Homo sapiens: one gene and its partners. The protein of the gene in region 1 interacts with the protein of each later gene in a pairwise test. Each region holds a gene or a part of one and is shown in the gene's direction. Other genes may lie near its edges. The genes, in order: ARL6IP6, DRD2 and SLC10A1.

Region 1 (3,298 bases):
CATATGTGAACATTTGGGAAATACACTCCAAGGTCATAAGTATTTTCGATGAAAACTTTTGGTGTCTTTGTTATACCACGTTACATTTTTCTTTTTTGATTTGTGTTTTTCTTTTTTTCTAGGAAACTGACTGGACATTCTTTCCACATGGGCTATAGCATGGCGATTTTGAATGGCATCGTAGCTGCTCTTACTGTAGCATGGTGCCTCATGTAAACCCACACTGGAGCGATATTGTTGGCAAAACTTAATCATGATTGTTTTGTAATAACAAGAAGGAGCATCACTGTCTACTCAGAAGACTGAGAAACCTGCTGTTCATTATGTAGTTCAGATATTTATCACAATCATCCTCATTATGGAAGACCTTTTAAAGCATTGTTTTAGAATGTCTGAGTATTAAGATACAGATTAATTGGGAATATCTGAGTATTAAGTACTTTCTTCAGAGTATAAGATGTTTACCTCATCTTTTTACTTTTGTGTGTGTAGTTCTTTCAAGTTGTAGGAAACATTTTAATGGAATTTAAACTCAAAAACTTGAATACAGGACAATGCTTGCCTTTTCATGTATGTACTACATTTTTTGCTAAGAAATACTGATATTTCTGTTTAGTTGAGCTAGAAATACTTCTTATTTATACATTTAGGAAAGCAAATAATGCCTACTACTCCGACTTTTATAGAAGCTACTTTTAAATCAGAATATTTAATTTTTGATATTCATATAATTAATAGAAGTTGCATTTATATTTTTTATGGGGCATAGTTCCTTATGTGTTTTTTTAATGTATTTTCATACTACATACTGAATTTGTATGTTTTTAAAATTGTTACATCTAGACAACTGTAAACATTATTTTTTTAGCTAGTGCAAACCTAGTACCTGCCATTTTTACTAATTTTTGTCTTTAAAAAAAGCAAAAAAGCACATTGACCTAAGTTGAAAATTAAGTAAGTTTATTTTTAACAAAAAATGCCTGAAAAAAGCTAAATTATTTAAGTCATTAAGATATTGAGAAAAAATTTGAAATTTTTACTATTTCTGTTTCCACAATTCCAAATATTTATCTTGGTGTATATATTGTTACTTTAACAGAACTTGCATTATTTTGTTTTTAATAAATATAAACATGAAATTTTTGTATGTGAGAATGATTGAACTAGTTTGTTCTTAATCTCAAAAATTTAGTTACCAAAGTAGAAAAGGTATTTTGATACTAGATATTAAAAACTACATATAGTTAATATAATTTTATAATTTTTGTAATTAAATGTGCTCCTGTAATTGTGATATTTTGTTTTCTAAGTAATTAAGCCTTAATTTTTCCCCTATGTTACTAAAGACTTTTAATGTTTAGAAAGTTACCTCAGTTTTAGAAAGATGGACTACTTACAAAGCTGTTTTCCCTGGCCATAGGAAAACTTACAATAAGAAACCATTAAGTAGTCAAACTGCTTATTCAGGCTAAGTGGGAAATGAATTTGTGCAGTGTGTTCCCTTAATTATCTACTGAATGTTGTTACCGACTAAACAAGGTTTCTAAAAGTCTCGCATTTCTTTTACTATTCAAAACTCTTTGGTTGGAAATGACTAATACTGCTCCAATTTAAATTATCTGAAATGTGTGTGTGTGTGTGTGTATCTAAATATCAATCCCATGGCTTAAGTATTCCTACCAGAGTGGTGGTTGCCATCAGTCTATTTTCACTCCCTGCCTTCCTTCCTGCACGCTTAAACTCTTCACCCTTTGACTCCAAAGAGCCCTTTCATTGCAAAGATGTACACAAGTAACAGAATCAATTTATCTTCTCTCCACCACTCTGTATTCCCACGCACCACCAATGTGAGTAACTCCCTCCAGATTGTTTGTGTCTAATGACTAGGAAAGTTATTAACAGTAGACCCTAGATAGAGATATGTACACCCTAGACAGTCATGTGCCATATAACAACGTTTTGGTCACAACGAACTGTACTTATGATAGTGAATCCCCCCGTAAGATTATACTGCTGCATTTTTTACTTTATTTTTTCTCTGTTTAGATACACAAATATTTACCATTGTGTTACAGTTGCCTGCAATATTCAGTACAGTAACATGCAGTACAGGTTTATAGTCTAGGAGCAATAAGCTATACCATATAGCCTAGGTGTGTAGTAGGCTATACCATCTAGGTTTGTGTAAGTATACTCTGATGTTCACACAATGATGAAATTGCCTAATGACGCTTTTCTCAGAATATATCCTTGTCATTAAGCCAAACATGACTATATATACCTACAAGATATATATTAATATAGATAAATATAGAGAGAGATGTATCCGTAAGATATTTTTGTGGAATCCTAATTCTTCTGGACTGTTACTCCCCTTTTTTGGGAAATGACCCTCCTCTCTCCAGTCTGACACAGGGTCCAAATATAAATCATCTATATGCAGAATGATTAGGCAAGGATAGTCACCTAACTCTGGCTGAGCTAATCCTAATCTCATTTTGCCTGGCTACAATGAGTAGAATAGAGAAATGACTTCAGTGAAGTATGTCTCTTCCCAGGATTTTTCAGCTTGAAATTAAGATGTGACGAAGCTGGGAAAATGCAAGCCCAGGAAATGCTGGCAGCTGTAGTTCAGCCAGGCTCAGTGGGAAAGAATAAGGCTGATAACGGATATTGCTAATGGCGTTACCCTGGTCCCTGAAGCCCAGTGGCAATCCTGCCATTCTTGATACGTGAGTCAATAAATTTCTGTCTTTTGGCCTTTGCAGTTTACATTGGCTTTTGTCATTTGCAACAAAACAAGTCAAAATGAGCTTATCTAGCAGCTGGAATCCATCTCTATTGTGAAACTGACTCAGATGATCTCATCTCCTTATGTGTAGCTTACAGCATTCTATTTAGTTACTTGTGAAAGATAAACGGGGTGTAAGTATTCCTGTGGCTAGTGATTAGTCTCAGGGACTTGAAAAGACATTTTAGAATAAATTAAACTATTATTAATCTTGCTGTTTCATCAAGAAATTATGTCCCCAAATTCAGTTCCACCTTAAGTGTTATCAGAAAGAATATTACTGTAGTTATCAAGATATGATTCTTTAGTTAATACAACGTAATGAGTTTGAACTACAACTGTTACTTAATATCTTAGCATTTCCCGGTTTCCTTACCTGTCGAATGGGAAGAATAATACTTAACAAAATACTTAAACTACAGTGAAAATACTACATGTCAGAATTTGTAGGACCTAGATAAAACACTGTGTAAGGGTAATTTATAACTTCAAATACATTTATCAGGA
Region 2 (3,659 bases), on another chromosome or scaffold:
GTACGGGGCCCCCATGTGAGCTCCCAGGAAGACAGTGCCGCATGAGAGGCTTGCTGTGTTCTGGGGCAAGCTGCTGTTTCTGCCACACAGGATGACAGCAGCTGCATTGCCCATCATTGAGCTTAAATGCCAGCATTTGGTTGGATGCCTAGGAGCAGAAGAGAGGGCAGTGATCAGAATGAGCAAGGTTATAATTAGCCCTGCTGCCAAGCTACACGGTGACACGAAGTCTGCCCTACTCCGGGTTGCGGGAGGGGGCTTTCACGCTCCTCTCTGCTCCTATTGGTAGAAGCCAAAGGTGCATCTCCCTGTCCTGACTCCATCCTCAGGGAACTGGGGCTGCTCCAAGCTTCCAGAGCGCTAGGGACAGCTGCCGTGAGTGTGTGCCTGCGTAATCTGCCATGAGTGTGTGCCTGTGTGTGAATGGGTGTTACGTGGGGAGGGGGGAGGGCGGTGCGTTCATGTGTGTGTGTGTGTGTGTGTGTGTGCCTGTGTGCATGTGTGTATGAGAAACGTGCTCCTGCCAGGAGCTAGACTCTTCATTTCCCATCCTACCAAGGACACAGCTCATCACAGCAACCCCTCCGCCTACCCCAGCCCACTCGGGTGTTCCTCGAGCACTAGCCCAGATCTGCCTTCTTTCGTTCTCTGGGTATAAGAAGGAGCAGAAATTTCTTCTCTGTTTCATGGCGAGTCTTCATCTTCACCATTATTCTTAACAGATCATTTTGGGGCCCCGACTCTGCCATGTACTGGGCCAACCACTGAAGGGCTTGCCTGGCTCAGCCAGAGCCTGGGCCAGAGCAGGACTAGGAACTGAGCCCACAGGCCTTGGGGAAATCACTGCACTTTTTGGAGGCTTGGTTTCCTCATTGGTTCTCAGTTTCCTCACGGGCATTCTAAAATTTTACCTGGAATCTAATTTACAGAGGTATGGCTGAGTGATAACACAGGGAAGCCAGTGCCATTGGGAAGAGTTTAACGTGATACACAATGTCCCTAGAAACCAGATGCTCAGCCCGCCATGTGGGGTGCAGGGGGAAGCAGCAGGCTTGGGTCAAGAGTCAGAATCAGGGGTGAGGGAAAGCCCAGGCTACAGCCCTGTTGGGGCTCCCACAGGAAGTGCAAGGCAGGGCAGATTAAGCAACCTAGGGTTGGCTAGTCTCAACATCCTGGCAGGCTTTGGGCTACAGGGGTGATCTCTAGTTGTCTCTCTGGTACCTGAGATAATTTGGGACAGGGGAAATATTGTCTTGGTGTGTGTGTGAATTAGAGAAACGGGGTGGCTGGCTTGCATTTGAGAGGCATCCTTCCAAGTCAGTCATTTTCTGTCTTCAGGAATTAACTAGCTCTGGGACAGTAAGTCTCTCTCTGGGTCTGTGAGGCTCCCAAGTGCCAGAATATCAGGATCAGAGAAGATAGAAAAATATAGTCAATATAGGTGTCTCTGTGATGAATGGGTGCCAAATACACAAATACAGAATCTAAGAAAACACATGGGGTTAACAAAGGTTGCAGAGATTAAGGTTTAAAGTTGAGGCCCTCCGTATAAGTTGGCTGTCTTTCTTCTAGCACAGTAATTGGCAATAAGTGGTCTTATGTATCTGGGAGAAGATAAGCGAGGGGCAAGGGCCTCAGACACCCATGGGCATCACTCCCCACACCCCAGCTGGATGCCCACAAGACTTGCAGCTGCCTCCTGAGTCTGTGGCCTCATCGGCTCCAGGAGTACCAGGCTACAGGACCTAAGCTAATCTCCCACTCCTGCTGTCCATCCATTATGTTGCTTTGTCCCCAGGTGGTAGGTGAGTGGAAATTCAGCAGGATTCACTGTGACATCTTCGTCACTCTGGACGTCATGATGTGCACGGCGAGCATCCTGAACTTGTGTGCCATCAGCATCGACAGGTGAGCCCAGCCAGGGTGGAAGAGGTTGCTCTGGCCACTCACCATTCTGGCTGCCCCAGCTTTTCTCAAAGCCAGGCTGTGTCTCGTGTCTGTGATGCTGTGCAGCTGGCTGTGTGCATGGGGGTCCATGTGTTTGTGTGTATGGGTGTGCATGTGTGTATGTTTGGCTAGGAGAGCACACACTCCCTAAAGAGAAGCCATCTATGGACAGTGATGCTGCCAAGCATACTCAGACAGTGACTGGTACAAAAGGGGAAAGATTGTGATTCTGACGGAAGCCCTAGCTCTAGCACATCTTACTCATGTGACCTTGGGCAGATGATGGACGTTTTCAGAGCTCTCAGTTTCATTTTCTAGAAACCTACATTGATGACACCTGTGGCCTGGAGCTGCAGTATCTGGTTATGCATTTTATGTCCTTGGCACATGGCCAAGGGTCCCAGGCCATGCACACCTTGCTAAGCTGCATCCTTGGAGCCTTCCACTAATTTGCACAGATATGACCCTACCTCCCTCACACCATTCTTGGAAGATGAAATAAGTTAATGAATGAGAAGGGCTGGGTAAAAAAAAAAATGTGATGAAGGATTGTAGACAATTGCCATTGTTATTTCCTGCTAACTAAGGCTTAAATCTTGCTCTGAGGGGCCTGGCTAACAATTTATCAACAAACATTTCCACCTTATGGGCTCAACACAAGTGCAGTGGGTACAGTTTCAAAAGTGCAAAGATGCAGGCCATGGTTCTTCGAAAAGCCTGAAATCCAGGTGGGGCCGGTTAGAATAATAGATATGAGCTAAGAGTAAACAATAGCTCACCAGTGATTAAGTGTTTGGGCTTTGCCAACTGTCCTCGCCATCTGAGTTTGGGGACAGGAGGGAGGGTTGAGTTAGCATCTCAGGCAAGCTTCATAGAGGTGTGTCAACTGTTTAGCCCCAAGGAGTGAGGGTGTCTCTGGTGTGTGCATATTGTGGAGTGAGGGGTCCCTGGGCCTGCACCCCAGATTCAGGGTCCCCCGCCCTTGCAGGTACACAGCTGTGGCCATGCCCATGCTGTACAATACGCGCTACAGCTCCAAGCGCCGGGTCACCGTCATGATCTCCATCGTCTGGGTCCTGTCCTTCACCATCTCCTGCCCACTCCTCTTCGGACTCAATAACGCAGGTACATTCTGCTTTTGTTTGCCTGAGGCTCAGCTGGCCCTGGGCCCCTGCTCCCTCGAAGGGCCCTGAGGGAGCAGAGTCCCTGGCACAGATATGGGTGGAGGCCCAATGGAGGCCTATCACTACCCTGGACTGAGTCCAGGCTACGTGTCCTGGGCCAAGCCCCACTCAAGAGTTGTTCTAGGTTGGCAGAGAGGAAACAGTGGCCCAGGACACAACGGAGTTGGATGAGGAGTGGGGATAATGGTTCAGGGGTATGTCTGGGAATTTTCAACTTTGGTTATTAAGTTGAAGAGGCAAGACGTGCTTCACAAACTGCATGTGTGTATATGTGCACATGAACATGGGATGGCGGAGGCTACTGGGCTTCCATCCACTCCTGACAATAGTATTTTTGTAATGAAGCTGCAGCCCTCAGGGCCTGCTAAACCCAGGTCAGGCCTTAGCCACCTGGAGCAGGAAAGCTAGAAGTGAATAGGAGGTAAGCTGACCACATGCCCATTTCTGTGGGAGGCAGAGTCAGGAGTGTCTCAGACAGAGGCAACACAAAGCCCCCGCCAGCGTGGAACTTCCTCTCATCAGGGAGGC
Region 3 (2,822 bases), on another chromosome or scaffold:
TACTCAGGAGATAAAAGGGACAGTCTTAAATTTACACATACCTGTTTATCATTTTGGAGGACGCAATTCTCTAAAATGCACACTGGAAAGTACAAAGTGCATGGAGTGCACATGCACTTTGAAAGGTTGCATCCTATGTTGCACAATGAAAAACCCTATAATTTCATTCAGAGTAGACCTGCATAGTTTCCAATGATGTTGTTATCACCCAAGATATTTCTGAAAGTTCTTTTGGGAACTTCCTTCATATTCAATTTGCAGGTCACTCAAGAAAGTAGGTTTGTCCCCTTATTATTAGACATCATTTTGGGTTTAAAACCGTATTTCCGGGCTTGATCATCCACCTTGTTTACCAGCTTTGTTTCAAATGACTCTTGGCAATTTCCAGAATTGATCCTAAAATGGATAAAATCCCTATCTGTAATCAAGGTATTTGAGACAAATATGTATGACAAGTTCTCATGAGTTTCAAAGTATGTGGAACAATGACAGTATTGTAGGAATGTGTATATAAGTTCCAAAAATACTTGACTTTTAAATAATATCCATTTTGCAGGAGTCCTGAATAGCCTCACGTAACACTTCACTGAAAGTCTGCTATCCAGAGATGTGTCAAAAGCAGTAACTGTGCTTGGCTGAGTTTGTAATAATCAAAGTGTTAATCAGCTGTCCCCAAGCTTCCTAGCTACTGATACGAAATCTAAAAAGATGGGCTGGGTGCAGTGGCTCACACCTGTAATCCCAGCACTTTGGAAGGCCAAGGCAGGAGGACCGCTAAGAGTCCAGGAGTAAGACCAGCCTGGGCAACATAGTAAGACCCTGTCTCTAATGTTAATAATTTTAAAAAAATTTAAAGAAAGGAATCCAAAAAGAAGATAAAGGTCTTTCATATTCCTTTCCACTTCCAGTGTTTTATTGCAATGTTTCCCACCTCCAATTTCTACCTGTGCTTCCCCACCTCTGTTCCTCTCTATCCCCAACTCTTCTAATTGCCTTTTCTTGTCTTCATTCCCAGGGAGGGATGATCATCATTCTCTTGTGCAGTGTGGCCGTCACAGTTCTCTCTGCCATCAATGTGGGGAAGAGCATCATGTTTGCCATGACACCACTCTTGATTGCCACCTCCTCCCTGATGCCTTTTATTGGCTTTCTGCTGGGTTATGTTCTCTCTGCTCTCTTCTGCCTCAATGGACGGTAGGTATTTTTTTTTTTTTTAAGAAAGGGTCTCACTCTGTTGCCCAGGCTGGAGGGGAGTAGCACATTCTCAGCTCACTGCAGCCTCAACCTCCAGGGTTTAACTGATCCTCCTGCCTCAGCCCCCCAAGTAACTGGGACTATAGGCACAAGCCACCATGACCAGCTGATTTAACTTTTCTGGAGACAGGGTTTTACCATGTTGCCCAGGCTAGTTTTGAACTAATGAGCTCAAGTGATCCACCTGCCTCAGCCTTCCAAAGTGCTAGGATTACAGGTGTGAGCCACTGCATGCCTGGAGATAGGTATTATTTTAGGTCCCACTGTCCCATGGGCTTCATTCTTGTCCTAGTCTTTCAGGAAACGAATAAGAAGCTAGGAACCTGAAATCTGGGCAAGACACTTTCCTGGCAATATGTTCAGATGCACTAACTGGACAAGAGACTTTAGACTTGAAAAAAATTGAATGAAGGTATTGAACGGGTTAAAAATCCAGACACCAAAGGTATCCAAACACCAGCAGCAATAGCAAAGTACCCCTGTCCAGGGTCTAGATTCCATCTGCTGCGAAACTCTTTGGTAGCAGCACTGGGACAAAGTTGCTCCCTCCAGTTCCCTCTGAGTGTATGTGGGGTTTTCTTCACCGGCACAGGTGCAGACGCACTGTCAGCATGGAGACTGGATGCCAAAATGTCCAACTCTGTTCCACCATCCTCAATGTGGCCTTTCCACCTGAAGTCATTGGACCACTTTTCTTCTTTCCCCTCCTCTACATGATTTTCCAGCTTGGAGAAGGGCTTCTCCTCATTGCCATATTTTGGTGCTATGAGAAATTCAAGACTCCCAAGGGTGAGTACTGAAATTATCCCCACTTCAAGTTCTGCTCCAATATTAGACCTGAGCCTGCCAACAAGCAAGTTTCTAGCAGGGACTTTTTGGATAGGGCTTTAACTCTTATCAAGTCACTAAGAACCAGGTAGCCCCAAGAAGCACCCAAGAAGCATTAAAGATCCAAGACTACTTCCATCAACTGCACTCCATTTCTTCCTTCTAGCTGGGAGAATGAAATTGCAGATGCAGTTTACCTCATAAAACTGAAGCAATTTGGGCTGCTTTGTCTCAGTGGGGAGACATCATAGGACAAAACTGCCTTGGACAACTGAGGTTATTAGTTGTGTGAAAGGCCTCTATTCGCAAGAGTTGGGGAAGTTTCCATTTCTCAGGACTAGGTTCTCATTTCCTGGAACCAGATCAGAGCCACAGCACCACTGGCACCTCCGTATGAGGAAAAACATATGAAAGCAATGCACCCTAATATAACCCAGAATAAAGAAAAAAAAAAAAGATTCCTCAACTCTAGTTACGCAGTAAAGGAAACTTAAGCATACGGTTGTTAAACAGTAACTACCTCCACAATAAACTTAATATGATTTATACTTTACTCTGATCACTATGGGGTTAACATAGCATCTCTTCTCTAAAATGCTCAGAGTATTACCTTTCAAAATAAAATTGAACCTCAAGACAGACCAGAGAACAGAGTGCCTTCCTCAAAGTGCACTTTAACACCAATTTTAAAAAAAAAAAAAAAAAAAAAAAAAAACAGGACATTCAAACCCACTTTATAA

What was found.
Region 2: the proteins of ARL6IP6 (region 1) and DRD2 interact in a two-hybrid assay, tested with the Homo sapiens proteins (one large-scale study listed by BioGRID and IntAct).
Region 3: the proteins of ARL6IP6 (region 1) and SLC10A1 interact in binary tests that used the Homo sapiens proteins (3 or more experiments, as listed by UniProt).

The regions. Positions count from the first base shown.
Region 1 is NC_000002.12:152,759,625-152,762,922, forward strand, and holds the end of ARL6IP6 (ADP-ribosylation factor-like protein 6-interacting protein 6), read left to right. Parts: intron 1-122; coding exon 123-216; 3' UTR 217-2,772; downstream 2,773-3,298.
Region 2 is NC_000011.10:113,416,276-113,419,934, reverse strand, and holds part of DRD2 (D(2) dopamine receptor), read left to right. Parts: intron 1-1,798; coding exon 1,799-1,908; intron 1,909-2,935; coding exon 2,936-3,072; intron 3,073-3,659. UniProt on the Homo sapiens protein: Dopamine receptor whose activity is mediated by G proteins which inhibit adenylyl cyclase. Positively regulates postnatal regression of retinal hyaloid vessels via suppression of VEGFR2/KDR activity, downstream of OPN5.
Region 3 is NC_000014.9:69,777,554-69,780,375, reverse strand, and holds part of SLC10A1 (hepatic sodium/bile acid cotransporter), read left to right. Parts: intron 1-1,015; coding exon 1,016-1,194; intron 1,195-1,846; coding exon 1,847-2,043; intron 2,044-2,822. UniProt on the Homo sapiens protein: As a major transporter of conjugated bile salts from plasma into the hepatocyte, it plays a key role in the enterohepatic circulation of bile salts necessary for the solubilization and absorption of dietary fat and fat-soluble vitamins.